7 linked regions of the Homo sapiens genome follow. The protein of the gene in region 7 purifies or fractionates together with the protein of the main gene of each other region. This does not show direct contact. Each region holds a gene or a part of one and is shown on either strand. Other genes may lie near its edges.

Region 1 (4,397 bases), about 110 Mb from region 7:
AGAGGGAGAGAAGAGGGAAGTGGGAAGCTGAATTCAAATGTTTGGTTCTTGTGGACTAGCAACAAGGAAGTGAAGACAGATGAAAGAGAAACCTTGAGTGCCTTGGATCAGTTAATCAGTAACTCACTGACGCTGGCACTAAACTAGATCCCGCTGACATCCAGTGGCAATTGACCGGGTAAGGCTAGACAAGTTTGTAAGTCTCTTGCTCAGTGCAAAAGAACCAGCCACAGAGAGAAGAGGCTGCTTGGAGAATAAGCTACAGAAAACAACTAAAGAGCAAAACCCAGAGAGCCCTCCAGGGACCTGTGTGGTGTCTGAGGCAGAGGCTGAATTCCAAGACAGAGTCCAGCACCCACTTTTTTTGAAACCCTTAGCATTTTCTTCTAGCCTGGAGTCAGGTACTAGGGAAGAAAGAAGACCCAGAAGAAGGGTGTGCTTTTTAAGGTGTGGTGCGCTATTAAGAATGCTGGACTGCCGGGAGTAGTGGCTCGTGCCTGTAATCTCAACACTTTGGGAGGTAGAGGTCGGAGGATTGCTTGAGCACAGGAGTTCGAGACCAGCCTGGAAATATAGTGAGACCCTGTCTCTACAAAATTTCTTTTAAAAATTAGCGGGGCGGGGCGCAGTGGCTCACGCCTGTAATTCCAGCACTGCGGGAGGCCGAGGCAGGCGGGTCACGAGGTCAGGAGATCAAGACCAGCCTGGCTAACACGGTGAAACCCTGTCTCTACTAAAAATACAAAAAAAAAATTAGTTGGGCGTGCTGGCGGGTGCCTATAATGCCAGCTACTAGGGAGGTTGAGGCAGGAGAATCGCTTGAAACCGGGAGGCGGAGGTTGCAGTGAGCCGAGATCCCCCCACTGCACTCCAGCCTGGACAACAGAGCGAGACTCCACCTCCAAAAAAAAAAAAAAATAGCATAACATGGTGGCACACGCCCGTAGTCCCAGCTACTCAGGAGGCTGAGGGGCAAGGACCTCTTGAGCCCTGGAGGTGGAGGCTGCAGTGAACCAAGATCGTGCCAGTGACAGAGGGAGACCCTGTCTCAAAAAAATATACAAAAATAAAAGCATGCTAGACTTAGGTGTCTTAGGTATCCATCGCAACTCAGCCACCAATTGGCTGTGTGAACGATGACATTCCTGAGCCCAGTTTCTTTATGCTGAAACCAGCTCAAAAATACTGCAAATCTAAAACCAGCTCAGTACAAGCCAGTTGCAACTTCCCAGTACCACAGCAGTTTTAGGAGCACCAAAACTCCAGCTTCTGGAATAACTTAAGACATTTTCAGCAACTGTCCAAGGCAATTCTCATCTCCAGTTTGAAAAACATTGCAAAACACTACCCGGTCCATTCTAGCAGTAAATCTATCAATACTACCTCAAGAAAAATAATCGGGCAACATTTAGATAAAACCAACATCTAAATCTTAGGATGTCAGAAAGCACACATTAAAATCATGAGGAATCCTCTTAGACCCACCACAAGATGGCAACAATCCAGAAGTGGTAAGTGAGCAAGTCGATGTGGAAAAATCTCTACAGCACATAACCTAAACACCACTTCCAAAAACATAGCCCACATCGTTTATAAACAAAGTCGTGAATGTTTTCTGGAACCAGACCTGAATTTACAACCTCCTAAACTCCATGTAGGGAATGCAGTTTCTTTACTCTCCAGACAGCTTATCAGAAACTCTCTACCTGTCTATACTTTGCATAAATGGTGAATTTGAAAATAAAAGTAACCCAGCGTTTGTCACAAATTTCCCGCCTATTACCACTGCATTCCTGAGTAGTAATAGGATGTAACAGAACATGGAGGCAGACAGACGTGGGTTCAAATTCCAAGTCTGTTCCACGTTCGTCTGTCCCATGTTACATCTTAGGCAAGAAACTAACCTCTCTGAACCTCATCAGTAACATAGGATAAGAATTCCTGCCTCTCTTGATTATTGTGTATTATAAAAAGACATAAAATAAGTGCCATCACGTTAGGAATACATTAATGTTCACTTCCTCCTTTTCTTCCAGAATCCTTTAAAATATTTACAGAACAATAAATAACCAGAAAAACTATCCCCCCTTATGGTAAATCCCAATCATGCCAAAATTCCTCAGACCAAAATAGATACCAAATGAAAAACAGCTTTTTTGTACTTAGACATAGCGTGTGTACCATATGTGTTCTCATGATACACACATGCTTATAAAAAGATATTGTCAGAAGGTAACCACTGTTGGCTAGGTGCGATGACTCAGGCCTGTAATCCCAGCACTTTGGGAGGCCAAGGCAGGCGGATCATCTGAGGTCAGGAGTTCGAGACCAGTCTGGCCAACATGGCAAAACCCCATCTCTACTAAAAATACAAAAATTAGCCGGGCATGATGGCGGGCGCCTGTAATCCCAGTTACTCAGGAGGCTGAGGCAGGAGAATCACTTGAACCCAGGAGGTAGAGGTTGCAGTGAGCCAAGATCTACTGCACTCTAGCCTGGGTGATAGAGAGAGACTCTGTCTCAAAAAAAAAAAAAAAAAAGAAGAAGAAGAAGGTAACCACTGTTAATTCTACCCAACAATATTAGGTTAAATCATATGACATTGCTGATGTTTGACCACCTTATATTTACAACTATAGCAGTTTCATATAGTTGGAAATAGCAAATCTAGGGCAAGGATTCGAGGCCAGGAGCAGTGGTTCATAACTGTAATCCCAGCACCTTGAGAGGCCGAGGAGGGAGGATCACTTGAGCCCAGGAGTTCAAAACTACCCTGAGCAACATAGTGAGACCTCATGTCTAAAATTAAAAATCGTATTTAAAAAATAAAGCAAGGATTCAATATCTGTCTGCCCTCCCTAGATTTCCTGAAAACAACAAGATCATTAGAAATCAGTAACTCTGCGTTGTCATCCCCATTCTGCCATTTATTAGCTGTGTGACTTTTAAGAAAATCATTTAGCAACTTTGGGCCCTGGCTTCCAGATTTATACGATACATATGGTAGATTTATCTTTTTCTGCTCTGTAATTTAATGACTATAATAAGGCATAGGCACTTAGGTTAGTGCCACCAAAATACATAGCTGGTAAGAACATTTTAAACTTAGCTATCCACGTTATCTTGGTTGTCCCTTCTGCATCTATCCTGCCCTCTTCCACTACGAAGCACAGAAGACAGAGATCTTGATGATAATAAAATAAAGCTGTGTAAACTTCTTCACAGGCTTCTTAAAATGCACTTCTAATTTGGCACACCCTACCACAGCAGTACTGGATTTCTCCTTAAACAAAAATGGTCACGGGTGTCAAAGAGATGTGAGTGAGTGTCCACTGAACTGTGTCTAAATGATTTTCCTTGTGACCAAAGCCAGCCTGGAATAAGCCCCTGCTAGTGAGAAGAGAGAACATGCTTCCCAGGCCGAGGAGGCATTGTTCAAAGTAATGAGTTCTGCACCACTTGGTCCACAATTCACAGCTGAGTCTGATTTTCCTAGACAAAGAGCAATAACCAAATGGAGGATGCTCTTCAGCAAGCTTCCCTGGGTTTATCATTGTTTTTAGACTCATGAGGTGGTGAAGGAAAGATGAGAGTTTCCCTAACCGTCTATGTCCTAGGAATGACAAGAGGAGATGTTTGTCAACCCTGGTCAACATTATGCCAGGATTTTGTCATGGCTGTAATGGATTTCAAGAGTTTAAATTCACTAAAAATGTCTAGAAATTATTCCATCTCAAAAGTTAAATGTTTAAATACTCTATTGTATTCCTTTTATCCTTTTATCATAATTTTATATCCTCTTTTTTTTTTTTTTTTTTTTGTTCAGGGAAAAAATAGTTATGATCCTTCAGGCATGCAGACCAACATTCTTAGAAGGAAGCTGCAGAAGGTTCATTATGTCATGAAACACAGAGCCAGAACAAAGGATTACTGAATCACTCACCTTATCTTCATCTAAGAAACCTGAGAATTACAAGGTTTCTGTTTCTTCTAAACTCTGTGCTGCACTTGCCAAGACTACAAGTTTTAGAGTAGAGTTTGTACTTCAAAAATGTAAGCAAATAGGTGCACATAATGCTTCCTATCCTAGATGTACAGCCTTATCTAAATTACTCAGTTTCAGCATTTGTTTCTGAATCTGCAAGTCTGAGTGATTAGCACCAAATCAATCGTTCTCCTTAAGAGTACCAAAGGTAGTATCTTCACTCTGAACGTCTGAAGTGGTATTAGAATTATTTCAGGACTCACAGCTCTTAGTTCATTCAGAACAGAAATCTGGATTTATTCATCTTGCCTTATATATAATACGTTCTCAATAAACATTTGTTGACTAAGTGAATAAATTAAGTAAAAAACATTTCGTTAAGAATTTTCACAGTATTTTACATTATGGCACC
Region 2 (4,397 bases), about 33 Mb from region 7:
AGCCAGCCATGGTGGCATGTGTCTGTGGTCCCAGCTACTCAGGAGGCTTCGGTGGATCACTTGAGTCTGGAAGGTGGAGGCTGCAGTGAGCCAAGATCACACCACTGCACTCCAGCCTGGGTGACAGAATTAGACTCTGTCTCAAAAACAACAAAAAAACCAAACCCCAAAACAGATCCAATCAATTCTACAGAAAAAGGTTTCCTGACTTTGTGCCATGGGAAAGTAATCTCAAGGCATTATACTGTCAAATTTGCTTTATTTTTAACTGGACAAGAAGTTTCTGACTTGCCCTCCCTCTTATTCCAGCACAATTCCTAGTAGGGAATCCACATGGCATGTCAGAGGCTGTCCATTAACCCAAGCTCATTAGGGGAGTCACTGACACCAGAGAAGGCTTGTGAGCTCTTCAAGGGCAGGGGCCAGGTCTGTGCCTTCCAGGTGCTGGGTAAATATTGTGCAGTAGAGGGCTTGTTTCAGGGTCTCGTGCACATGTCGCAAGCCTTCTCCAAGCAGCCTTGCAGTGATAATGCAATCAAATAAACAGAAACAAAGAATAAAACATTTAAAGACTGGATTCCATTCATCTTACCATCAGTAAAAAAATATGATCTGGTCCCATCTTGTCTAACATAAAAGTTTTCTCCAAGTTTGCTGCTGGCTTTAAACCTAAGCATGGCATGATCATACAGTCCGTAGTCACGAAACAAGACACTTTTGCCTGGTTTTAATACCTATGAAACAAAAGCAGGCTGAACATGACTTTGGAGAACCCTGTCAAAATAAAACCTGATTAAGTTAGGACTTAAAATAAATTTGTGATAGTTACTAAGGGGACAGACTGAAATGCCCATAATACGGAACCAAAATGGCCTACTACTTAAAAAGATAGTAAGACCAGGCAGGGCTCCATAACACTAAGACACTTCTTTTTTTTTTTTTTTTGAGATGGAGTCTTGCTCTGTCGCCCAGGCTGGAGTGCAGTGGCATAATCTCAGCTCACTGCAACCTCCGTCTCCCACGTTCAAGTGATTCTCGTGTCTCAGCCTCCCGAGTAGCTGGGATTATAGGTGCCCGCCACCATGCCCGGCTAATTTTTGTATTTTAGTAGAGATGAGGTTTCACCATGTTGGCCAGGCTAGTCTCGAACTCCTGACCTCAAGTAATTTGCCCACCTCAGTCTCCCAAAGTTGGGATTACAGGCGTGAGCCACCTCGCTCGTCCCTGAAGACAATTCTTGAGTACCTCCAAGAGCACCCTGGAATGTCCAGTGTCACAGGATTAAAATGTTAGAGACCAACCTGGGCAATATAGTGAGACCCCATCTCTACACAAAAATTAAAAATTAGCTGGATCTGGTAGTGCGTCCTGTAGTCCCAACTACTTCAGAGGCTGAGGTGGGAGAACTGCTTGAGCCCAGGAAGTTGAGGCTGCAGTGAGCCACGTCCATGCCACTGCACTCCAGCCTGAGTGACACAGCAAGACCCTGTCTCAAAAATAAATAAATAAGTGTTAGAGACAATAAATGAAAGTGTTATCCTCATTGAAGCACTTTCTTGCAACATTTTATTCACCATCTCCTAGTACTCAAACTGTATTCAACTGTCTCTTAAAAAAACAAACAAACAAACAAACAAAAAACCAGAATGTCGTTTTGGCTCTTTACTGATTCAGGTTGGTTTTCCTCATTCTGAGCCTCAGCTCTCATTTCATTGTGCCACAATGTATAGCTCAATCACGGTGCTAATGACTGATACATGCCTAGCATTTGACTGCTTAACCATACATTTTCTCATTGTATCTTCACCCAACTGTGGGACAAAGGAATGTGATTATTATTCTCACATGAGACACGGAAACCAATACTCAACAGGGTTAAGTGATCTGCCAATGATCATACATTAGCTTTTTTTAGACAAGGTCTTGCTATGTTGGCCAGGCTGGTTTCAAACTCCTGACCTCAAGTGATTCACCTGCCTTGGCATCCCAAAGTGTTGGGATTACAGGCATGAAACACCACACCTGGCCAAACTGTGTACTCTTGACCACTAAACCATAACTCCTCTCACCTTATAGCAGGACTCCATGGATCCCAGGTAACTGCAAAATCATCCTTGTCCCAGGGCTGGCGAAGCTCTGAAGAGCAGCCATGGCACTGCACAAATCAGAATTTAGGGTGGATGTTTTATGCCAGAGGACCCCTTTCTATACACTCACTACACAGCCTACCTAGTGAGAATGGAGAGACTATGTGAATCTAGACAGTACATGAGCCTCATGAGGGAAGGTAAGTAAAAGAATCCAGACTGTCCAACCCTCAAGTGCAGGCCCCAAATCACTAACCTTGTAAATGTTTTGTAAGACAAGGTGCATCTTATCAGGATGAACAGCTGACAGCACAAATATCAACATAACAACATCCACAGACTCTGGCGGTACATGATCCAGAAGATCATCTTTAGTCAGATCACACTGGAATACCTTGCATCTTTCTGTATCATATAAAGGATTTTGCTACAGGGGGAAGAAATACAAATGAATTTTAATGCAACCACTAGGCTGATACATATAGAAAAATACAACATCAAAAGGCGATCCAATTTCCACTTGTATACATAGAAATTATCACTGTTACCAGATAAAACTGATTAATAAATCACTCACTATAAAGCATGTAATATTCACTACTGCTACAGGAGCAAGACTTCATTTTAATAAATCATTTTTAACTGAGGAGACAATAAGAGTATCACGTACTCAAAACTGAGCATTTTAGAAGCATATTATTTCCAGAGGGATGATGATCCAAAACTGGCCTCTGCTTCTTTTTGTTTTTTAAAGAGACAGGGTCTCACTCTGTCTGCTGGGCTAGAGTGCAGTGGCATGATCATGGTTCACTGCAGCCTTCACCTCCTGAGCCCAAGTTATCCTCCCACTTCAGCCTCCTAAGTAGCTGGAACTACAGGTGTGCACCACTGCATCTGGCTAAATTTTTATTTTTATTTTTGTAAAGATGGGATCTTGCTATGTTGTACAGGCTAGTCTTGAACTCCTGGCCTCAAGTGATCCTCCCACTTCAGCCTTCCAAAGTGCTGGGATTACAGGCATGAGCCACTATGTCCTGCTGGCCTCTGGCTTCCTTAATCCTCCTTTGAATCATCTGCTTAAAGCCTAAACCCTATGAGAAGCCCTTCTAATTCCCCTTGATGAGATGCTCCCGCAGTTCTTCTGGGGTATATTTTCTCTTTATGCAGCAAGCTAAATAAACTTAACCTTTTTTTGACTACAAATGTGTTCCTGGTACATTTTGGTTGGTAGGCTTCAACACATGTATAGGAGTATTATGAAGAAAAACATTAAACTTCTATTTCATGTAAATGAGGACCTGAATAAATAGATATACAAAGTTACTGGATGGGAAAATTAAATGCAAAATTAAAAAGATGTCAATTCTATTCATAATTCCATTTGTAAATCCAATGCAATCTAAACTGATTCCCAACAGATTTCTAGAAACTAGACAGGGTGAATCTAATTCATCATAAAGTAAAAATCTTTAAGAATAGCCAAGTCAATTTTTAAAATGATGAACAATGAGGTAGGTATGGTGGCTCATGCCTGTAATCCCAGCAACCTGGGAGACTGAAGTGAAAGGATCGCTTGAGTTCAAAGCTGCAGTGAGCTATGATCCATGCCACTGCAAGCTAGCCTGGAAAACAGAGCAAGATCTCATCTTTAAAAAAATAGGCCAGGTGCGGTGGCTCACGCCTGTAATCCCAGCACTTTGGGAGGCCAAGGCAGGTGGATCATGAGGTCAGGAGTTTGAGACCAGCCTGGCCAATATGGTGAAACCCCATCTCTACTAAAAATACAAAAATTAGCTGGGCGTGGTGACCCGCACCTGTAGTCCCAGTTACTGGGAAGACTGAGGCAGAAGAATCGCTTGAACCTGGGAGGCGGAGGTTGTAGTGAGCCGAGATCATGCCACTGCACGCCAGCCTGCATGATAGAGACTCTGTCTCAAAAATAAATAAATAAATAAATAAATAAATAAATAAAATAGAATGAAGAATAATAAAGGAGAAGATACACTACTGGATATCAAAATATATTACAAAACGTAGTAATAAAACAACATGGTTTGAGAATGGAGACAAATGTATCACTGAGACAAAACAGAGTCCCAAAACAGACCTGTATATACTGTATATATAAACAGGAATTTTGTATATTATATGATAAAAGATAGACAAAGGTGACAATTAGACAAAAAGGTAGATAATAAAGATGACAATTATGAGTGAGGAAAAAATTTCTCATTCAATTTACTGTGTTTAGAAGAACTGGCTACCCTTGAGACAAATGACTACCCTTGAGACACAGGCCCACGGTACCAG
Region 3 (4,397 bases), on a different chromosome or scaffold from region 7:
TGCCAAATGCCTAAGAGGCTTTCACTGACCACTGCAGCTTAAATATCTGGTGCTCCCTGACACAAGGATTTAAGAACTGATCTTGTGACCAGGCATGGTGGCTCGCGCCTGTAATCCCAGCACTTTGGGAGGCCGAGGCAGGCAGATCATGAGGTCAGGAGATCTAGACCATCCTGGCTAACACGGTGAAACCCCATCTCTACTAAAACAAAAACAAAAACAAAAAATTAGCTGGGCATGGTGGCAGGTACCTATAGTCCTAGCTACTAGGGAGGCTGGGCAGGACAATAGCGTGAACCCAGGAGGCGGAGCTTGCAGTGAGCTGAGATCGCACCACTGCACTCCAGCCTGGGTGACAGAGCAAGACTCCATCTCAAAAAAAATGAAAAAACAAAACAAAACTCATCTTGTTTGATTGCTCCTTGCCGTATGCAAGGCTCCTTGGTGTACCGTGCTGGCAAGGAAGATAATAAATACTTGTTGACTGAACTATAATGTAATGGTTAAGTATACAGACTTTGGAGCCAGACTGCCCCAGTTCAAATGCAGGGCTCTGCTACTTTTTGGCTACGTGATCTTCAGCAAACAACTTCTCTGCTTCAGTTTTCCTCATCTGCAAAATAGGGATAACAGTACCTCTATCTCATCAACTGTGAGGATTGAATGAGTTAAATCAGGTAATAAACTTAGAATAGCACCTGTCCCATACTAAACACTCAATAAATGTTAGCTATATTATTGAAATGGCTTCTCAGGAACCAGACTTCATTTAGATTGCTTAGAGAAGGTGAAGTTTCTGATTTTTAACATTTAGATGGCAATGTTAACTTAAAGAAAAAAAGGAACAGTTTTTTCCACAGGCAGCTGGCTGACACATTTCACTATGATCTCATTCAGCCTCCTTCCCATGTGGGCTGAGGTAGCCCTGCTCCTAAAAACAGAACATGGCTGCTGACATGGTCTCCTCAATCAGTTCCAAACACCAACCTCAAGAAAACACTTTTAAGATTTAATGGTCTTCTAAACTTGCTTATCTCCTTTGAAAGAGGAAGCCTGTTTAGAAGGCACTGAAATTTGTAGGGAAAAGTGACTAGCTTTAGGAATGTGGGTCTTCAGAGAAAAACACAAAACGTAATTATGAAGGCCATTTTACCCTTCCAAGAGAATTTTAACAGAATTCCATCAAGAGTGTTTTAAAAGGAAATAAGTGAAAAATAGACATTTAAACAAGTAAACATCAAGCTCCAAAATTAAACTAAAGTACCCAATATACCCAGAAAGTCTGGCCCATTTAAAAACCCACTTTGCAATTTTAGCTTAAAGTGTGTATTTGTTCATCTTCCTTGGTCTCACAGAACTGGGACTGAAACTGAAATTGTGATATCAGGAAGGAGAGAAGACATAGCTGGTGGAGGCTGTCAATTCTTTTCTCCTGAGTGTTGGAGGACAGTATTTTGGATGAAGGTCCTCATGACTGCTAGGAACAAAGTGCCTCAGCATTAGGTACCACGTTTAGAAAAAGACACTGAAACCAAATGGGAAAGACAACAGAACAATGTGGCATATTATGGCAGTTCTAGGAGAGAGAACCAGGAAAGCAACAAAGCATTCATAAGGAAGAGCCCAGCACAGGGAAAGACTAATTCCTAGAAGACATGTTTTTGATAGCCTTATACTCAAAGCAAGGTCAGGCCAGCAGCAGACATCACCCGGGAGCTGATCAGAAATGGAGAAGCAGAATCTGCATTTTAACCAGATCCCAGGGGATTCACACACAGAAAAGCCTGAGGGGCTCTGCTCTACAAGGCAGTGGGCCCCAAACCAGGCTGCCTCTCAGAATCACCTGCAAACTTCAAAAGGAAAAAAGGCAGATGTTGGGTCCCTATTCCAGACCAAGTGAGTCAATCATACTCTTTCTGGATATTGCCCAAGCACGTACCATTTTTCTTCTTCAGTTTCGGAGGGCAATTTTGATGCACATCCTCTGTTGAGAGTCACTGCTCCAGAACAAAGTAAAGATCTAGTCTCAAAAGACAAAGAAAAGCTATGCATTCTAATGAGACATGTATATGTGGGGTGAAAATACAGATACAGAGAGCAGTGGGAAGTTAAGGAAAAAAAAAAGCAATCATTGTTTCCACTTAAAAACTCTTCTGCTGCTCAGCCCTAGTGGGAAGAGGAACCTAACCAATCTTATCTCAGGAGGAAACACCTTATTTTCTCAGGCAAGTGCCTACCTGTCCACAGCACCAGCTTGTCAGGCACCTACCTTGCTTGTCTGATTTGGTTTGATCCCAGGTCCTCGAACCAACAGTGGAACTTTGATATCAAACTCATACAGCTGTCTCTTGTCTATTGGCAAGGAAAACTGTCCTGAAAACAAAACACACAATGTAAAGATGGAGCCAAGACAGGAGCCTTGCTCATGTTATGTTTCACTCATTTAATCCACAGCCAAAACTAAAACAACTTTGTTCTACTGATTCTGGTGTTTTAATAGAAAGCTGAAATTTGCCTGGGTCTCTTGTTACTACAAGGCAGGAAAACAACAAATTCATCTTCTCTAAACAAATGACTAGAAGGGACTCCCTGGCTTATGATAGAACAAAATAAGCAAAAATAATGACAGGAAAGTATTGAAACACAAATACATAAAAAATTATGCATGCTACTCAGCCTCATCACAACTGAATGAAGTTTACTCCAAAAACTGTCAAATGAACAAAAACACCTATCCTGTGTTTCCTGAATAAACTGCATCTCAAAATAACCAAATAACTGATAAGGGGAAGTTCTTCTCTGAGGAATTTCAGCTAATAAATACAAAAGAAAGGACAGGATTACAAAATCAATATTTTGCAGTTTCTGAGGGAATAATGAATTTAGGCAGCAATCATCAATGGAACAACAGAAAAGCTCATAGGAAGAGCTAAGGCTGAAACCACCTGACTCATCAATCAACACCAGCACTCCAAAAACAGTGCAGCCAGATGCCACGGGCCTCATGACATGATGCAACAGGAAGTACACAGCAGCAGGTGAGGATGCACTGTCACCTGAAAATGCAAACTTCTATCAAGTCCCTAATCTAACTACCAATCTATAGGAAATGCTAACTAGAGATGAACAAGTTAAGGCACTATAAGACAGCAGTTAGCCAAATTCAAAATGTGAGACATTCTGATGGACAAAGACCCACTTCTCCCTGTAAATTCGTGGCAAATGACAGAGTTAGGAGATACAAGAACTAAAGGTAGTATGTGGACTTTGCCTGCATCTTTTTTTTTTTTTTTGAGATGGAGTCTCGCTCTGTCACCCACACTGGAGTGCAGTGGCACGATCTTGGCTTACTGCAACCTCTGCCTCCTGGGTTCAAGAGATTCTCCTGCCTCAGCCTCCCGAGTAGCTGAGACTACAGGCATGTGCCACCACACCTGGCTAATTTTTGTATTTTTAGTAGAGAAAGAGTTATGCCATGTTGGCCAGGCTGATCTGGAACTCCTGGCCTCAGGTGATCCACCTGCCTTGGCCTCCCAAAGTGCTGGGATTATAGGTGTGAGCCACTGAGGCTGGTGGTCTGCATCTTGATACATAATAACCAGAGTCAGATGCATAATCCGGTGTTGAATCCTGGAGTCATGTGTATGGGAGTTGCTTCAAAACCTTCTAGTAACAAAAGAAAAACACAGGGAGAGTAGGAAGAATTCAAAAGACTGGCCTCATGCAGCTGAAAATCTAAGCTGGATAATGGAGGTTATTTTACTATTCTCTACTTTGAGTGTTTAAAAATATTCACAGGCCAGGCGTGTGGCTCACGTCTGTACTCCTAGCACTTAGGGAGGCTGAGGTAGGCAGATTACCTGAGGTCAGGAGTTCAAGACCAGTCTGGCCAACATGGCAAAAACCCATCTCTACTAAAAATACAAAAATTGGCCAGGCGTGGTGGCGTGTGCCTGTAGTCCCAGCTACTCGAGAGGTTGAGGCAGGAGAATTGCTTGAATCTGGGAGGCAGAGATTGCTGTGAGCCGAGATCACGCTACTGTACTCCAGCCTGGGTGACAGAGCGAGATTCTGTCCCCCCACCAGCCCCCCAAAAAAATCACAATAATGCATTAAATGCCTAAGCGATCTCCTCCTATGCAAGCAAGTCTCAAGTGAATCCCATTCAAGTGGACATTTATATATGTGGAAAGAAGAAAACATTTGCTTTTAACAACAGAAGGTCCAAGCAGAAAGCATGAAAGTCAAGGACACAGAGCTGACTCATCCTGCAGCTTTTGAAAAAAACAAAAACACCCAAAAAACAAATTCCATGAATGGCAAGAAAGTTTTCCCAAGACAACCTCCTTTTGGTCTTCCTATCTCAAATGCCTTCCATACGGCCTGCCTCCAACCCA
Region 4 (4,169 bases), on a different chromosome or scaffold from region 7:
ATAATTACATAGACATTAAATAACATACCCTCTTAATATTATGTAGGTTATGACTCAGACTTAACTTTCGAGGTAAGAATAACATTTAGTAAATTACTCTTCAAAAATAAAAATATTTTCCAGAGCAGTTACTTCAGATCAGATCAAGCCCAGTTTCTTTTTTCTTTTTTTTTTTTGAGATGGAGTCTTGCTCTGTCTCCCAGGCTGGAGTGCAATGGTGTAATCTCGGCTCACTGCAACCTCTGCCTCCCGGGTTCAAGCAACGCTCCTGCCTCAGACTCCCAAGTAGCTGGGATTACAGGCACCTGCCATCATGCCCGGCTAAATTTTTATATTTTTGTAGAGACCGGGTTTCACCATGTTGGCCAAGCTGGTCTTGAACTCCTGACCTCAGGTGATCTGCCCACCTCAGCCTCCCAAAGTGCTGGGATTACAGGCATGAGCCACCACGCCCGGCTTCAAGCCCAATTTCTAAAAATTCAAATAAAAGAAAGATTTGTGGAACAAATGTAAAAGCTCATTATAAAAATATTAGTATGCTCTACCTCATATACTACAGATTTTTTTTTGAAGGGATAGACAAATGTATTTTAAGAACTGTCTACAATAATTTTCTCTAATTTAAACCCCACTTAACAAACAAAAAAGGAGTAAAATGACCACTTTAGCATCTCAGCCATCTATCACTTAAGAACCAAAACCTTAGGTTGAACATTACCCAGCTCTGGCATGCCCTGTCACAAGGGCACTGAATACTGCCTCTGTAACTGGGAGATCCTTAGTTTTCATAAATCCAAGAATCTTGCTGCAAAGGAAAAACGAAGATACTCATTGAAAGTATTTATAAGAACACTCTTTACAACATGTACAGAATTAGGCCTTGAGTTACTTTTGTTTTTAAAATATAATAGTAATATACATTTGTTTTAGAAACCACAAAGAAAGAACTAATCCCTTTGATCCCCTTCCCACAAAACCCCACTCTCTAATGTATCAACAGTCTTGAAGTACTATCGATACAAATACTAGATTTTTAAAAATCTGATTATCTGATTTGTCTTACACTACTAATTACCCTTTTAAAAGCATAGTTTCATAAGATTCTTTTAGATAAAAATGAAATTATGTATTCCAATTTATCCCTTATTTTCCAAACCTTCCATTCATAAGTAGTAATAAATTTTACATAAGCAGAGAAATGGTGCAACTGATTTTCTACACTACTTCCAGTTTTATAAATGAATACAGCTTAAATGGTTAAGAACATTTCCCTTAGGAAATATTTAAAAAAAAAAAAAAAAAAGCAAAGTCAGCTTTATAGCTCAACAACTTTATACCTCTCTCCAGTAAATCAAATTTTTAATTAAAATAGCAACTTTTACTTATCTTTTCTCTCTTACACGATAATTTTATATTTTATGTAAGTCAGATTACCAGATTTTCTAGATTAAAACAGTTCTGAAACAATTTCCTCCATTAGGAAGAAGCTTTAAAACAAAGAGTGAACAGACATTAGATTTACAAAATGTACAAATTTGTTCGCTTAAACATGTTCATACAGATCCATACCTGGCACCTTCAATATCTCCTACATTACAATAAGAAGCAATCAATCTCTGGTATGTCACCTGTCAATGAAATGGGCCAGTTAATTTTAAATATACTTTTTTTTCTGAGTAAAGAAAAAAAATGGTGGATGTGAAAATATATTCACAATAGCAACTACTTACTCGATTTGGTTGAATGTTTGCTTCCTCCATTTTTGCCAGGAAATCAGTTGGTGAGAATTTATATTCATTTTGAAGATAGACTTTAAGTAAAGCATTATAGTGACTCACATCATACACAGCACCTACAAATGAAATTTAAAATGAATTTTTAGAAAAGCATTGAAAATCCTATGCTTTAAAGTGGACCTAAATTTAACAAACAAAAAGAGTAAAACTATCACTTTAGCATTTCACCCATCCATCTTGGCGCTCAGACCTATCTACACAGATACTCTGTCACACAGAGCAAGCTAAGCATGTAAGACAGTAATTACTGAGTTACTGTATAGTTACAAGTAACTGCCTATTCGGATATTAAAAGGCCTCTTACTTATGAAGCACAAAATTATCTTCCTGTTAGAAAACGCTGACAATATCCCTATATTTAAAAGTGACTGTAAGATTTTTCTATATAAAGCAGTCCTCACATTACAGACACACTGTGAAGAATGGATTGTAACTTCAGTTCTTTCACACAGTAGGACTGTGCTGGCAATTCTGTCACTCAAAGCCTTCATTTTAAGGATGCATTCCATTTTCAGCTGATGAACATGATCTATGGTATGCTCTTGTTAATTATCTGTATTCTAATGACCTTTGTTTTCTTTGTATCCCTACTGTTTAGGGCCACATCAAATAAGGTTACCACACAGCCTTACTCTACTGAGTCATGACATCATGGTCTTTATATCAATTTTGTGGTAACATGTCTCACTACATTTTCATGCATTAAATTTCACATCTTTATTCAACTGCCTGTGACCATACAGGCCTATGGTTAGTATCTGGGGGTGAGAGTATGTGATTTTAGGCAGCAGAGAGCTGTTCCATTAAATTAATACACATTTTTATCTTAACAGATATGTTTCTTTCATACTATGTTTCAGGCACTATGCTAAGTGTTCCACATATAGTGGCTCACTCAAACTTCACAACAACTTTGAGACACTATTATCAGCCCCATCTTACAGATAGCTCAGATCTGTCAACAGCTCATTCTGTAATTTTGGACAAGTTACTTAAGCTAAAAGATCTCTTGTATCTTTATAAATCTGTAAACAAGAGTCAAACTGGCAAACTACAAGGTTTCTGGCAATATTAATTCAACAAGTATGTATCAAATGCCATTATACACAAAGCATCATGCTACTGTCAAACAGGAAAATAAAGAAGCCATGGATTCCATCCTTATAAAGCAGACACTTATACAGGAGAGACCTATCTGTAAAGAATGTTAATATAATAACACATTGTTAATCTTTATATGGAGGAATTAATGTTATTACTGCTGTGTAATGCTTTTTTCTATTTTAGAATGTAACCTTTTCTGCATATATTTCTCCCAGTTCAATGACTTACTGACATACAGAAATTTCTAATTTTTAGAGATTCAATATTTTAGCTTTACTTTTCTGCTCCTTTTATACTTATAAAATCCTTTTCCATTCTGAAAGTCAACATTTATCTATATAGTTTTTAACTTAAAAAAAAATCAACTTATCAAAATGTATTCTAGATGTATTCAAAACTGTGAAGGAAGAATCTGTCTTTATCCTGTAGTTTTTTTCACATAGGTCCTACTCACTTTTTGAAGGATAGTCCTAAATATTTTATTTATCTGTAGCTATACTTTCTTGGATTCTTTTCTCTATTTTCTTTTATAACTAGAAGAGGTATGGATTCTTAAACATTTAGTGAGTCCAGCTAATTACTGTGAGCTGATTTTCTGGGATTTTGCAGATTAAACAATCACATCATCTAAAAATAATAACTTCTTGTATTGTTTCACATCTTATTTCATTGCATTATACATGATTGTTGTCGGTTTTAGATTTTTAACACATTAAAGAAGCATCTTTCTATACTTTAAGATTTTTTTAAATCAGGAATGAACATTAAATTGTATTAAACCATCTTTTTTCAAATTATTTTTTGAATACGTACTATGTTACATGACATAAAACTGAAAAGGTATAAAAAGGTCAAGTAAAACCTGTATCCAGTGTTCATCATCCTTCTAGAAATATTTTAATATTGTATACACATGCACGTGTAAAAACACTTTTCTTCAAAATGGTATCATTCTATACATACTGGTCTACACCTTAATTTTTATTTATACTCTGGAGAACACCCCCATTGGCATATAAAGAGCTTCTTCATTTCTTAAAACAGTTACACAGTAATCTATTTTACGGGTACTCCATAATTTATTTACCTAATCCCCTAGAGAAGAATATTTGAATTGGTTCCAATTTCTTACTATTACAAACAAGCTACAATGAAGAATATCCTTTTGCATATGTGAGTATATCTGTACCTAAATTCGAACAAATGGAACTGCTCGGTCAAATGGTATGTGCATTTATAACTTTGACAGACAAACCGGCTATTTTCTTC
Region 5 (3,804 bases), on a different chromosome or scaffold from region 7:
TATTCTTATTTCACAGATGAGGATCCAGAGATTCATTTAATTGTCTGGCCCACACAATCAGTCAGCAATGAAACCATTAGAAGCCAAGTCTTGTTCACCTAAATCAGTTCTGCCCAGATGGTTTCTTTGTATTGGCCAGCCATTGAAAAATTTCTGCCCAGGCCTAGGTTTGCTGAGTTGCTCAGGGCTACGCCACCACAGAACAGTGTTTAGATGTTCGGGGAGAACAAGGTAGGTTCAGTGCTGCAGAGTTTCAAATAATAAGGCGAGAAAGAACACCAGAAACAGGCTCATTCTAACAGGAAATTTCTGATACTTCTGTAACTCTAGTGCTAGTATTACAAATGTTTTCCCTTTTGGCATTAAAAAATGATTCATAGGTGTTGCCGTTTCCGTCTATTTTCAACTGTTGTTAGAGTCCTGGAAAAATGAAGACTAACATGTTAAAGCCACAAAAAACGGGGCCGCGCGTGGTGGCTCATGCCTGTAATCCCAGCACTTTGGGAGGCTCAGGCGGGCGGATCACTTGAGGTCAGGAATTCGGGACCAGCCTGGCCAACATGATGAAACCTTGTCTCTACTAAAAAAAGATACAAAAATTAGCCGGGCATGGTGGCTGGCACTTGTAATCCCAGATACTCGGGAGGCTGGGGCAGGAGAATTGCTTGAACATGGGAGGAGGAGGCAGTGAGCCGAGGTCACACCATTGCATTCCAACCTGGGTGACAGAGCGAGACTCTGTCTCAAAAAAAAAAAAAAAAAAAATCATTATTACACTTGGTCTTTTTTAAATTAAAAATAAAAATATCCTAGTTTCCACTAGTTCTAATACTTTGTTTTTAGTAAGGTTCCCTCTCAACACTTTGAGTGAATTACAGCTGTGTAATATTGGAAATGATTTAGTGTTTTATAAATAGTGAAAATAAATTTATATATTTTGATGCTGTAATCAGCAACAGGCTAAACATATTAAAGAAATAAAGTCCAGTTTCTTTTTTAATTTAAAAAAGTTTTACTTAATTGCTTAAATAAAAAATAACATTAAAATAATTTCTACATATAGTTACAAAGCATGGTAGAGCTTGAAAAAGCCTCTTGTAATTTTGAACAGATGAACATGATGTCTCCATGATGTTCTAACAATATGGAAAAGTTAAAACCAAAAGACTTCTAACCCTTGGTAAGACCAGAGGGATTAAAAGACCCCACTATGGACATATTCACTTTAGTCAACCACTTTTATGGAATGAACACTTGTGAGAGACTGGGTGTGAGCTGATCTGGTTCCAAGTGATCTGGAAGCTGAGGTACTACTTTCAGGATGAATGGTCCGGGGATATTTTGCTGCAGTTGCTTGAGGAATGGTTTGCTGAAAAGACAAAATTCTGCTTTAATAATATCCCAAGATTATGTATACTATGTATCATTTCATCATCTATCATCTATAATTTAACCCAATAAACATTTGTTAAGATCCAGTAGAAAGAAGCAATGAGTGGAGTGAAGCAGCTGTTAATTAGATGAGGCCTTTGTCTGTAAGGAACCCCTACCCAGTCTGACTGACATGTTCAACACCCACAGTGTAATATCAGAGCTATATCCACAAGGCTCATTAAGAAAGCCACGGCAGCCATTCCTCCAACAGGGCCAAGTGGAATCTTGTAATGTGTACAGAGGCTTTGTATACAGAGAGAAACTCTGTGGTGTCTGGAAGAGGGGTCAGCCCTGAGTCCTCCCCTCATTCCATCCAACTTCCTTCTCTCTACTTGACTGTTAGTATGTGGATGTGATTATCTCACAATCCCAGGGGCACACGGAAGCCCTCAGGATGCAGTCTGGTCCTTGCTTTAAACCAGAGCCCTCATATTTAACCTGGTTCACCTGGGAGCAGACTAAAACTTTTATGCACATCACCTCAGAGCTCAAAGGAACACCTCAGACATGAGCACTGAGTCATTAAAGTCAGGACACACGTGACTTACTTGACACACATAATATGCATGTAATGCATGTAAGTACACACTATGTATACAAGTACACATTTACATGTAAACATGAACAATATGTATCAGTACAAGGCTTTTCCCTATTAAACCCGATAAAGCTTCTTAGTAGCCAGCAGTGGGATTTGTTATCAAGTTCTCAGTCCATATCACTGACTAGGACATGTCAATTTCTATTAGGGTCTTCCACTTAGAAAAGTCATTGTTAAAATAGTTTAAGTAAAATTACATGTATTTGGTCAAAACATTCACTATGTATTTAAAAAACTCCAAGCTGTAGTTTTTGCTTAAAAAAAGAATGAAACTTCTTAAAAACAAAAGATCCTGTCAGATTCCATTTTAAAAAGAACAGAACTCCTTTTTAAAGAAAAATAACTTCTTTTCTTAAAGTATCTTATAAAAACGTTTATTTGTACATAAACAACTGGATAACCATTATAAATAGGAGATACTCTTGCAACAGATAAGAAATTTTAGTTGCCAGTCACCTAATTAGTTGCCAGCCACTAACCTGAGCCTGCCAAAAAGGCTTTCTCCTTGAGGAGGATGGGCAAGAGGAACTGTAGAAATAAAGTAGCCACTGAAATTATGATACACAAAATATGACAGAGAATGAAGTGGCCCTAGAAGCATGCAGTTACCCAGCAGATGAGGCTACAGTGTCACAAATCGCATCCTTGGTTTTTTAGTAATAACTATTTCTGGTAGATTTAGATCTTGATTCCCAGGGTGAAAAGAAATACAGTACAAATGACTGCCACTGTGTCTGTCACATAATCCAGGCAGCTGATGGCTATCTGGTTCATACACAGTTAGTGGGTAAGAAATGCACATACTGAATAAAGGGAGGGCAGCATGGGAGATAAGTATCAGAAACAAGGGTTCTAAATGTTTAGTACTTTGATTTTTCTTCTGTAAAATATGAATTCCCATCATTACTACAAAACAAAAGCTTGTCTAATAAAAAATAAACACACATGTGCTCTCTTTACACCTTCTTTACCTCACAAATGGACAGTCTCTCACCATCTCTATACATTTTCTACATCTGAAAAAACAGAAGTGGGTTTATTTCTTCTCATTTTTGATAACTTGTCTTCCATATTCAAAAATATATAGAAAAGTCTTCTACGAACTTTCAGAGTCTGTCCAACTTATGAAACATGAAACCTAAGATAATTCTAAAATAAATCCTCTGTCATCTCCATGTCTCTATCTGGACTTGGTGCTTCTATCTCCAGCCTTCCACCTCGCTAAGGTCCCACTTCACCTGAAGTTCAGTTCAAATCAATCCAGCTTGTCTTCATTTAATCATCTAGTGCCCAGCTAGTACTCGGGAAAAAAGGATTTAAAATCATTCCATATACTTTTTTTTTGCTAATACTTAGAAAGTACACAGGAACGTTGTCCGATGCTGAGAATTTATAGAGGGCATTCTCTTTTAAAATCAGTCCCTGAAATCAGCTGGGGGTGGTGGCGGGTGCCTGTAATCCCAGCTACTCGGGAGGCTGAGGCAGGAGAATTGTTTGAACCCAGGGGGCGGAGATTGCAGTGCGCCAACATTGCGCCATTGCACTCTATCTAGCCTGGGAGACAAGAGAGAAACTCTGTCTCAAAAAAAAAAATAAATAAAAAATAAATAAATAAATAAATAAATAAATCCTTGTTTTTCTTTAGGGATGTTCTTATCACTCTTATTATACTTTTTGAGATAATTGTTGATTCGTACACATTTGTAGGAAATAATTCAGAGATATCTCATGTATCTTTTTCTAGTAACTTTCAGTAAGTTAAATTTGCT
Region 6 (4,397 bases), on a different chromosome or scaffold from region 7:
TTTTAAAATATACCTAATAATTAATATATTTGACAAAACACTTGATTTTATGGTCTTTAACTGTGAGATTGTGTTTATAAAGAAGAGTTAATTTGATTAAAGTCAAAATAAATCCAAAATTTTAATTACAAATATAGATTGTTACCTGGTTCTTACATCTAATTTGCATCTATTGATGATACAGGATAACTCAAAGAGAATTGGGAACCATCCTCTCACCCACACCCTGTCTTCAGGTGCTACGTTCATATCATCGCTTGTGTATTCCTTGAAAGCCTTCAAGAAAAAAGGTAGGGTTATTAAAGGCAAAACATAACACCCATACATTCAGTATACTAACTTCTCAAAAAATAATTTAAATGCTTCACAAATAACCAGTGAGCAATTTAATAAAAAATAATTTATAAAAAATGGACACTATAACTGCCTACAATTTTAGTATATGTGCCACTGAAATAGGCAAAACATAACTGCCTATAAAGAGCTCTGGACTAGAATCCAAAAGTTAGCTTCACTTTCAACTGTCACCAGCTTTCTGCATTATTAGCCAGGTTAATTCAGGTTTCCATTTTTATCACTTAAATGGTTATGATACCAGACAGCCACATTAACCACACTGGTGAAGTATGAAGGTGAAATGAGTTGACGTATCTAAAAAGTACCAAGCACCTGATCGGTCCATGGTAGTACGGAATAAAATCTTATTACCAAATCTACGATACATCACTTTCTCTTATGACAGTTACAAAGATAGATTCAAATATACAAGTTAAATATGGCAGCTAGATTTTCAATTCAACCTTTTACTTTAGAGCTTAAGCCTATTCTCATCCATAGTCAGTCAGCTTCAGTATTACACAGCACAGACAGACAAGATGCACTGTAGGGAATGGTTAGAAACACAGGCTGGGGCTCAAACCCTAGTTCTACTTTACTAGCCCTGAAACTATGGGCACATTTTAAAATTTCTCTGTGCCTCAGTTTCTTTGTCTGTATGGGGCTATAACACTATCTACCCCATAAAGCCATTAGAAGATTAAACAAGTTAATACAAGTTAATGAAAAACACTCAGAAAAATACCTGACACTTTCAATAATGGTTAGTTATAATCACTAACCATCCTAACTTGGAATCAGGCTGCTCAGATTATTTTTCAAATTACTGAAAAATAAATGCTTCATATACCCTCAATTCCCAAACAAACTTAAGATTTCAAATTGGAAAGAATACTCTGCAAAATTTTGTTTACTAAATGACGCTATACCTGAGGTCTATCAGACACATATTTTGCACAATGGCGAATAAGTCGAATTGCTTCCATACTTGTGTCTGGGAAAGCTGCATTGCACGCAAATTCAGACAAACACTTCACTGCATCCTGGAAAGAATCAATGGTCGCTGGAAAGTGTTTTTCAAATACAAGGGCTAAAATAGAGAAAAATATATATTACTATAATTTTTCAATTATTCTTAGCTGTACCAAAAATACACCAACATCTAGATGTAATGCACTTCCTCTTAAAGGTTGTTACAGGTTCTGACATCCAACAGATACGAAGTTCAAGACTATCTTTACCACTTAACTGACTGCCCTGAGTGGTGAGAATAGTAAAACTTGTCTGTTTTGTTTACATTATAAACATAGCACCTAATACAGTGACTGGTACACGGTAGGTACTGATTCAACTTTGGTTGAATGAATATACAAAATTACTTAACCTCTCTGTATCTCGGTTTCTTGATATAAAATGGAAATAATAATAATATACACAGATAGCTGTAAGCACTACGTAAAATAATATAAGTGAAGTGCTTAGTGTAATACTTAAGCAAGCACGCAATAAATGATAGCTATGATGATGCCATGATTCTTGATGTTGATGGTCATCATTGTCATCTTCCATATAGGCTTAACTTATAATCTTAGTATTTCAGTCAGTCCCCCTTGAACTTAAGGGGACTCCTCCTTGAAGAAGGCTGTGCAATGTACTTACTGGTCAAAAATAAAGGCTTTGCTTTAATACTCCATGGGTCTCAAGACCATCTCCATCACTAGTTCTGTGACCTTACATAGACTGCTTAACCTTTCTGGGGCTGAGTTTCCTAATCTATTTTGAAAAAAGGGATGGACAATAATGTTTAACTGTGAAGATTAAAGAAATTACGTGAAAAGTGCACACAGTATTTGCCATATGGTAAATACTCAATAAATGTTAACTATAATAGTAATTTAATTGTTTTTATTTACTCTGGTTCTGTAGACAAAGCTTGGTAAACTTAAAGGCCATAATCTTATTGTTACTTGAATCATCTTCTGAACACGTTAAGGTTGCTTTTTTTTTTTCCTTTTACTTGAACACAGCTAAGAGAATACTCACTGACAATGTGCCCGGTTGTTTGGAATGCAAGTTCCACTATGCTTTCATCTTGATCAGATGCAGCTAGATGAAATACAGAGAAAATGTTCTTCCATCCAGATCGAATGTTAGCAGCTTGAGAATTAACCATCTGTGCTATACACCGTACAACCATATCTCGAATTGTTGGAGACCTAAAAATATTAATATAATTGCTTGGATATGCAAACCGATAAAACTCATCAGTTTTTCCCCCTTTCTTCTGTTTTTCTCCCTGCTGTGGAAAACAACAAGATTTTCCTTCTATTAAGCAATTCAACAAATATAGTACCTGTTCCGTTTCATTATATGTTCAAAAGGTCTTAAGAAATCCTTCTGGAATCTGAAGTTAGCAAGCTCCCCTTTCTCTAAGAACTTCATTGACAACTGCCTCAAGGAGTCTACTGCAAAAATAGCTACATCTTCATTAGGATTACACCCAACCTGTAATGGCGACAGAAATAAACGATGCTAATTAATATCAGCAGTAAAAATCTACAATTCTTTATTTTTTGTTTTAGAAAAAGTATAGAATAGCATAGATAGGTAAATCCTAAGATTTTCCATAAAGGCATTAAGTATGCTAAAACTATTTCTCAACAAGAAAAACAGATATTTTAAATCAAATTCTTAAAGCCCAGAGCAATCATTTCTAAAAAGAAAAACACCATTCACAGGGTTTTCTAATTTAATATTAAAAAGTAATAAATAATTGCTTGGAAGGGAAAAAGGCTCAATTTGATTACAAGGACATTCTAAACAAAAAATATACTACAAATGTAAACAAACACCATAGTTATTCAAATACCTTATTAAAATGATCTCCAATAACTTCCCAAATTCGAGACCACTGTAATCTTATTCTTCCCATGTTGTAATATGATATTTCTACTATTTTTTGTAGACTAAACATTCTTGGGTGTGTCGTGGAAAGTAATTCATCCATAGACACAGCACAGAGCCAACGGACAAAATCCACTGTAATATAAATACATTTTTTTTTTAGCTCAACATTAAAGTTATTTTAGCCCCAAGCCAGTTCCGAAGTAGAATAAATGCCCATACTTACCAATGGCATTTCCATCTAGCCTTGTAGATCCTGTGAATATTCTAGGGAAAATAAAACACAATTTAAAAAATTTATAAGTTACTGTTCTTATTCCAATTGAAAAGTATGTGGCATGGGGTACTAGCTATTTTTATGTTTTAAGGGAACAAAAAATTGGGTATTCAAATGAGTATTTTTCATCATTTAGTTTAGTAACAAGTGTAGTCTGGATGTTTCTCCCTCCCCTCCACCTCTACTCCATGTGAACCAGTTTACATTCAATATTATTATTAGGGTAAGTATATACTGCTGTAATTTTATCAGATTTACAAACCCCGGATAGATATGAGATTCTAAGAATAAGAAAAATATTAATTTGTAAAACTAATAATTGGCACACTACAGATTCTTTCCTGATTATTGTCTAGCATTAAGCAAGTTCTTAAAATGAAAAATTTGACGTATTTTTACCAGTAAAGTATATTTGATTAGAAAGTTCATTTACACTAAAAGTGACTTAATATAACCTTGCAAATAGTCTCAGTTTACCCAAGAATTGGCCAAACCACTTTCCTTAGGGCATTCAAATGTTTGGAGTTAAGCTAACACTGCCCAGCTTTGCCCATTCTTCTTTGCTGAGCTCTTTTTTTGTTTCAAAGTTTCATAAAAAATTTCAGCATAAACACATTAGTCCTCCTTTTTTAAAGTCTGCATTTTAACCCATATTCTGGGTTTGCAACCAAGAGTTTGACGTCACTTTCAAGAAGGATGACATTCCTCAACTTAGAATGCACAAAATAGGATTTGCATGATAAAAAGGAAAACTTTAAAGGCAGGAGCAGGTCACAGTAGTCATAGCAGTAACAGTAATAGCTACCAATCACAAGATGGGTTCTTTTCTAGTGTAATATCAATATTCACTCATTTGATAATCACAAATTCCTTATGAAGC
Region 7 (4,397 bases):
GAGACCATCCTGGCTAACACAATGAAACCCCGTCTCTACTAAAAATACAAAAAATTAGCTGGGCATGGCGGCACGCGCCTGCAGTCCCAGCTACTAGGGAGGCTGAGACAGGAGAATCGCTTGAACCTGGGAGGTGGAGGTTGCAGTGAGCCAAGATCACACCACTGCACTCTAGCCTGGGAGACAGAGCGAGACTCCATCTCAAAAAAAAAAACAAACAAAAAAACCCCACAAAAACAGAAAACCCCAATATTTTATTTATTTATTTAAAAAAAACCCATACAGGCTGGGAACAGTGGCTCACGACTGTATTCCCAGCACTTTGGGAGGCTGAGGTGGGGAGGTGGGTGGATTGTTTGAGCCCAGAAGTTTGAGAACAGCCTGGGCAACATGGCGAAACCCATCTGTACAAAAAATACAAAAATTAGCCAGGCGTGGTGGCGTGCACTTGTGGTCCCAGTTACTGGGGAGGCAGAGGTGGGAGGATTGCTTGAGCCCTGGGAGGCGAAGTTGCAGTGAGGTGTGAGAGCACCACTGCACTCCAGCCTGGCCAACAGAGTGAGACCGTCTCAAAAGATAGATAGATAGATAGATAGATAGATAGATAGATAGATAGATAGATATAGACAGACAGAGAGACAGACAGACAGACACACACACACACATACATAGATACATAGATAGATAAAATAAAAGGCCTGGCACAGTGGCTCACACCTATAATCCCAGCATTTTGGGAGGCCAAAGTGGGTGGATCACTTGAGGTCAGGAGTTCGAGACCAGCCTGGCCAACATGGTGAAATCTCGTGTCTACTACAAATACAAAAATTAGCTGGGCATGGTGGTGTACACCTATAGTCCCAGCTACTTGGGAGGCTGAGGCATGAGAATTACTTGAACCCTGGAGGCAGAGGATGCAGTGAGCCGAGATCACACCACTATACTCCAGCCTGGGCAACAGAGACTCCGTCTCAAAATAAATAAATAAATAAATATTAAAAAATACACAGAGGGCAGCAAAGTTAACTCCCAATATTTTACAAATCCACCTACAGTGTAACAAAGATTAGTACAATTGCAATAGCAAACAATATTTCGGCTGGGCGCATGGCTCACGCCTGTAATCCCAGCACTTTGGGAGGCTGAGGTGGGTGGATCACTTGAGGTCAGGAGTTCGAAACCAGCCTAGCCAACATGGTGAATTCCCATCTCTACCAAAAATATAAAAAATTAGCCAGTACTGTTGGCACATGCCTATAATCCCAGCTATGCAGGAGGCTGAGGCAGGAGAATTGCTTGAATCCTGGAGGCGGAGGTTGCAGTGAGCCGAGATAATGCCACTGGACTCCAGCCTGGATGACAGAGCAAGAGTCCATCTCAAAAACAACAACAACAACAACAGATTTCTAACTAAAGAGAAAACAACAAATATCTTTCTTTTTTTTTTTCTTTTTTGAGACAGAGTCTCGCTCTGCCACCCAGGCTGGAGTGCAGTGGCACAATCTCGGCTCACTGCAAGCTCCGCCTCCCTGGTTCACGCCATTCTCCTGCTTCAGCCTCCTGAGTAGCTGGGGCTACAGGCGCCTGCCACCGCGCCCGGCTAATTTTTTGTATTTTTAGTAGAGACGGGGTTTCACCGTGTTAGCCAGGATGGTCTCAATCTCCTGACCTCATGATCCGCCCGCCTTGGCCTCCCAAAGTGCTGGTATTACAGGCGTGAGCCACTGTGCCCGACCACAACAAATATCTCTTACAGCGACTTTTTTTTTTTTTGAGATGGAGTTTCGTTCTTGTTGACCAGGTTGGAGTGCAATGGCGCAATCTTGCCTCACCGCAACCTCCGTCTCCCAGGTTCAAGTGATTCTCCTGCCTTGGCTTCCAGAGTAGCTAGGATTATAGGCATGCGCCACCATGCCCAGCTAATTTTGTATTTTTTAGTAGAGACAGGGTTTCTCCATGTTTGTCAGGCTGGTCTCCAACTCCTGACCTCAGGTGATCTGCCCACCTTGGCCTCCGAAGTGCTGGGATTACAGGCACGAGCCACTACGCCCGGCAAGCGACTTTTTTTTTTTGAGACAGAGTCTCACTCTGTCACTCAGCAGGCTGGAGTGTAGTGGCATGATCACAGCTCACTGCAGCCTTGACCTCTTAGGCCCAGGTGATCCTCCCAACTCAGCGTCCCAAGTAGCTGGGACTACAGGCATGTGCCGCCACATCAGCTAATTTCTTATTTTTCATAGAGACAGGGTTTCACCACGTTGCCCATGCTGGTCTTGAATTCCTAGGCTCATGTGATTTGCCCACCGTGGCCTCCCAAAGTACTGGGATTACATCATGAGTCACCACACCCAGCTGGTTCTACCCCTTTTTACGCATGCTTTAACACTTCCCAAAACTCTCTTTTCATGTGGTGCAAGGCCAGTTCCCATGGCTGTGGAGAATATAAAAAAAGCACCAGACATCAACATAGCCTTTGATGAGCATCCAATCGAGCAGTGAAGAGGAAATTCCCACAGGCAGCAAGTGGTCAGAGGCAAGCAAACACCCCTGAAGTTCAAAAGAGAAAAGGAGTGCTACTCTCTCCTGTGACTGCAGGAATTTCCCAGGAAACCTTCTATTGACTTTCAATAAAGCAAGAGAAAGCAAAAGAGACTACGTATAGGGGCCGTGATGGCAGCTGCCCATTATAAAAGCAGGAATGTAGGATCCAACTTGAAAAACTCAGTGACGACACCAGATCCTCCCTACTTCAACCTCAGAAGGCATTTCCAAGGCCAAAGAAGAAGTCAGGCTGGAGAGGACCTTCTGTGAGTTACTTTCCTAGAGGTGGTATTGAAGCTTTGGAAGAGTCTGGGCTTGCAAAGCAAGTCAATTAACAGGAGAAAAGTAGAGGCCAAAAGGATATCTTGATAGGTCACTGACCTAAGAAAGCAAGGAGAAGAGGAAATGACTGCCAAAGGCAAGGAAATAGAAAGAATAGGAGTCTTAGGAAAGGAAGTCTCAGGAAAAGAAGGGTGGTGAGTAGCACCATGGCCATGGGGAGCTTGTGCCATCATTCTGTGAACACCCACCTTGTACCAGGCACTAAGGGAGTCACTTCTCTTATGCCCATGTATTTAATCCTCATACCCCAGCCACAAAGCAGGTGGTTTTACAGCTCAATATACAGTTTTCAATTTTCATTGAGACTTGGTCTTAGAGATTATCCAAGAATGGGTTATTTGGCCGGGTGCGGTGGCTCTTGCCTGTAATCCCAGCACTTTGGGAGGCCGAGGTGGGCAGATCACCTGAGGTCAGGAGTTCGAGACCAGCCTGGCCAACATGGTGAAACTCCATTTCTACTAAAAATACAAAAATTGGCTGGGCGTGGTGGCACATGTGCACACGTCTGTAATCCCAGCTACTCAGGAGGCCGAGGTAGGAGAATCGCTTGAACCCAGGAGGCAGAGGTTGCAGTGAGCCAAGATCATCTCAAAAAAGAAAAAAAAGAAAGAATGTGTTATTTGGCTGGGCACAGTGGCTCATGCCTGTAATTCCAGCACTTTGGGAGGCCAAGGCAGGAGGACTGCTTGAGCCCAGAAGTTCAAGACCAGCCTGAGCAACATAGTGAGACTCTGTCTCAACAACAACAACAACAAAAAGACAGGTGTGGTGGTGCACACCTGTAGTCCCAGCTACTTGGGAGGCTGAGGTGGGAGGATTGCTTGAGCTCAGGAGGTCAAGGCTGCAGTTAGCCCCTGCTCACACCAAAAACAATGTTATTTAATTTCTAAGTGTCTGGAGATCTGTTATTGATTTTTAGTTTCTTTCTTTCAATTGTAGTTAGAGAACACATTCTGATTTCATTTTTTCTTTAAATTTTCATTATTTCTTAAAATTTTAAATAGAGATGTGGTCTCACTATGCTGCCCAGGTAGGTCTCAAATTCCTGGACTCAATCCTCCCACCTCAACCTCCCAAAGTGCTGGGATAACAGGCTTGAGCCACTGTGGTTGGCCTGATTTCAAATCTTTTACATTTTTTAAGTTTTATTTTATATTCCAGGATATGGCCTATTTGGGTGAATGTTCCATGGGCTTGAAAAAAATGTTCATTCTGTTGTTGCTGTGTGCAGTGTTCTATAAATTTCAGATAGCTTTTGTTAATTAATGGTGTTAAGTTCTTCTATATCCTAGCTGACACTAGCTGATTTTCTGTTTAGCTGTTCGTTCTTTTGTTTTGTTTTGTTTTTGAGATGGAGTTTTGCTTTTGTTGAATATACCTGTTAGAAGATCTGGATTTCAGGCTTTCCAGCACCCCATCTGGGATATATGGGAACCTGGGAACTCACTGTCATGTCTTTCCTCAAGCCCCAATATCCCTAGATAGTCTGCCTTCTTCTTTCCACCTTTCAGAGT

Evidence for each region.
Region 1: the proteins of PRKAR2A (region 7) and PLCH1 fractionate together in Homo sapiens (co-fractionation; one large-scale study listed by BioGRID). This does not show direct contact.
Region 2: the proteins of PRKAR2A (region 7) and METTL6 purify together in Homo sapiens (pull-down; one large-scale study listed by IntAct). This does not show direct contact.
Region 3: the proteins of PRKAR2A (region 7) and GNS fractionate together in Homo sapiens (co-fractionation; one large-scale study listed by BioGRID). This does not show direct contact.
Region 4: the proteins of PRKAR2A (region 7) and LRPPRC fractionate together in Homo sapiens (co-fractionation; one large-scale study listed by BioGRID). This does not show direct contact.
Region 5: the proteins of PRKAR2A (region 7) and POC5 purify together in Homo sapiens (co-immunoprecipitation; one large-scale study listed by IntAct). This does not show direct contact.
Region 6: the proteins of PRKAR2A (region 7) and ARFGEF1 fractionate together in Homo sapiens (co-fractionation; one large-scale study listed by BioGRID). This does not show direct contact.

The regions. Positions count from the first base shown.
Region 1 is NC_000003.12:155,737,885-155,742,281, forward strand, and holds part of PLCH1 (1-phosphatidylinositol 4,5-bisphosphate phosphodiesterase eta-1), read right to left. Parts: intron 72-4,397; exon of another isoform or gene 1-71. UniProt on the Homo sapiens protein: The production of the second messenger molecules diacylglycerol (DAG) and inositol 1,4,5-trisphosphate (IP3) is mediated by calcium-activated phosphatidylinositol-specific phospholipase C enzymes.
Region 2 is NC_000003.12:15,413,429-15,417,825, forward strand, and holds part of METTL6 (tRNA N(3)-cytidine methyltransferase METTL6), read right to left. Parts: intron 2,515-4,397; coding exon 2,344-2,514; intron 2,230-2,343; coding exon of another isoform or gene 2,206-2,229; exon of another isoform or gene 2,191-2,205; intron 2,156-2,190; coding exon of another isoform or gene 2,070-2,155; intron 1,487-2,069; coding exon of another isoform or gene 1,381-1,486; exon of another isoform or gene 735-1,380; coding exon 593-734; exon of another isoform or gene 518-592; coding exon of another isoform or gene 379-517; exon of another isoform or gene 243-378; intron 1-242. UniProt on the Homo sapiens protein: S-adenosyl-L-methionine-dependent methyltransferase that mediates N(3)-methylcytidine modification of residue 32 of the tRNA anticodon loop of tRNA(Ser), including tRNA(Ser)(UGA) and tRNA(Ser)(GCU).
Region 3 is NC_000012.12:64,734,735-64,739,131, forward strand, and holds part of GNS (N-acetylglucosamine-6-sulfatase precursor), read right to left. Parts: intron 2,374-4,397; coding exon 2,270-2,373; intron 1-2,269. UniProt on the Homo sapiens protein: Hydrolyzes 6-sulfate groups in N-acetyl-d-glucosaminide units of heparin sulfate and keratan sulfate.
Region 4 is NC_000002.12:43,975,425-43,979,593, forward strand, and holds part of LRPPRC (leucine-rich PPR motif-containing protein, mitochondrial precursor), read right to left. Parts: intron 1,853-4,169; coding exon 1,731-1,852; intron 1,629-1,730; coding exon 1,570-1,628; intron 806-1,569; coding exon 719-805; intron 1-718. UniProt on the Homo sapiens protein: May play a role in RNA metabolism in both nuclei and mitochondria. In the nucleus binds to HNRPA1-associated poly(A) mRNAs and is part of nmRNP complexes at late stages of mRNA maturation which are possibly associated with nuclear mRNA export.
Region 5 is NC_000005.10:75,673,210-75,677,013, forward strand, and holds the end of POC5 (centrosomal protein POC5), read right to left. Parts: intron 1,370-3,804; coding exon 1,226-1,369; 3' UTR 915-1,225; downstream 1-914. UniProt on the Homo sapiens protein: Essential for the assembly of the distal half of centrioles, required for centriole elongation. Acts as a negative regulator of centriole elongation.
Region 6 is NC_000008.11:67,224,758-67,229,154, forward strand, and holds part of ARFGEF1 (brefeldin A-inhibited guanine nucleotide-exchange protein 1), read right to left. Parts: intron 3,508-4,397; coding exon 3,467-3,507; intron 3,376-3,466; coding exon 3,206-3,375; intron 2,842-3,205; coding exon 2,690-2,841; intron 2,553-2,689; coding exon 2,380-2,552; intron 1,427-2,379; coding exon 1,266-1,426; intron 277-1,265; coding exon 146-276; exon of another isoform or gene 1-145. UniProt on the Homo sapiens protein: Promotes guanine-nucleotide exchange on ARF1 and ARF3. Promotes the activation of ARF1/ARF3 through replacement of GDP with GTP. Involved in vesicular trafficking.
Region 7 is NC_000003.12:48,767,721-48,772,117, forward strand, and holds part of PRKAR2A (cAMP-dependent protein kinase type II-alpha regulatory subunit), read right to left. Parts: intron 1-4,397. UniProt on the Homo sapiens protein: Regulatory subunit of the cAMP-dependent protein kinases involved in cAMP signaling in cells. Type II regulatory chains mediate membrane association by binding to anchoring proteins, including the MAP2 kinase.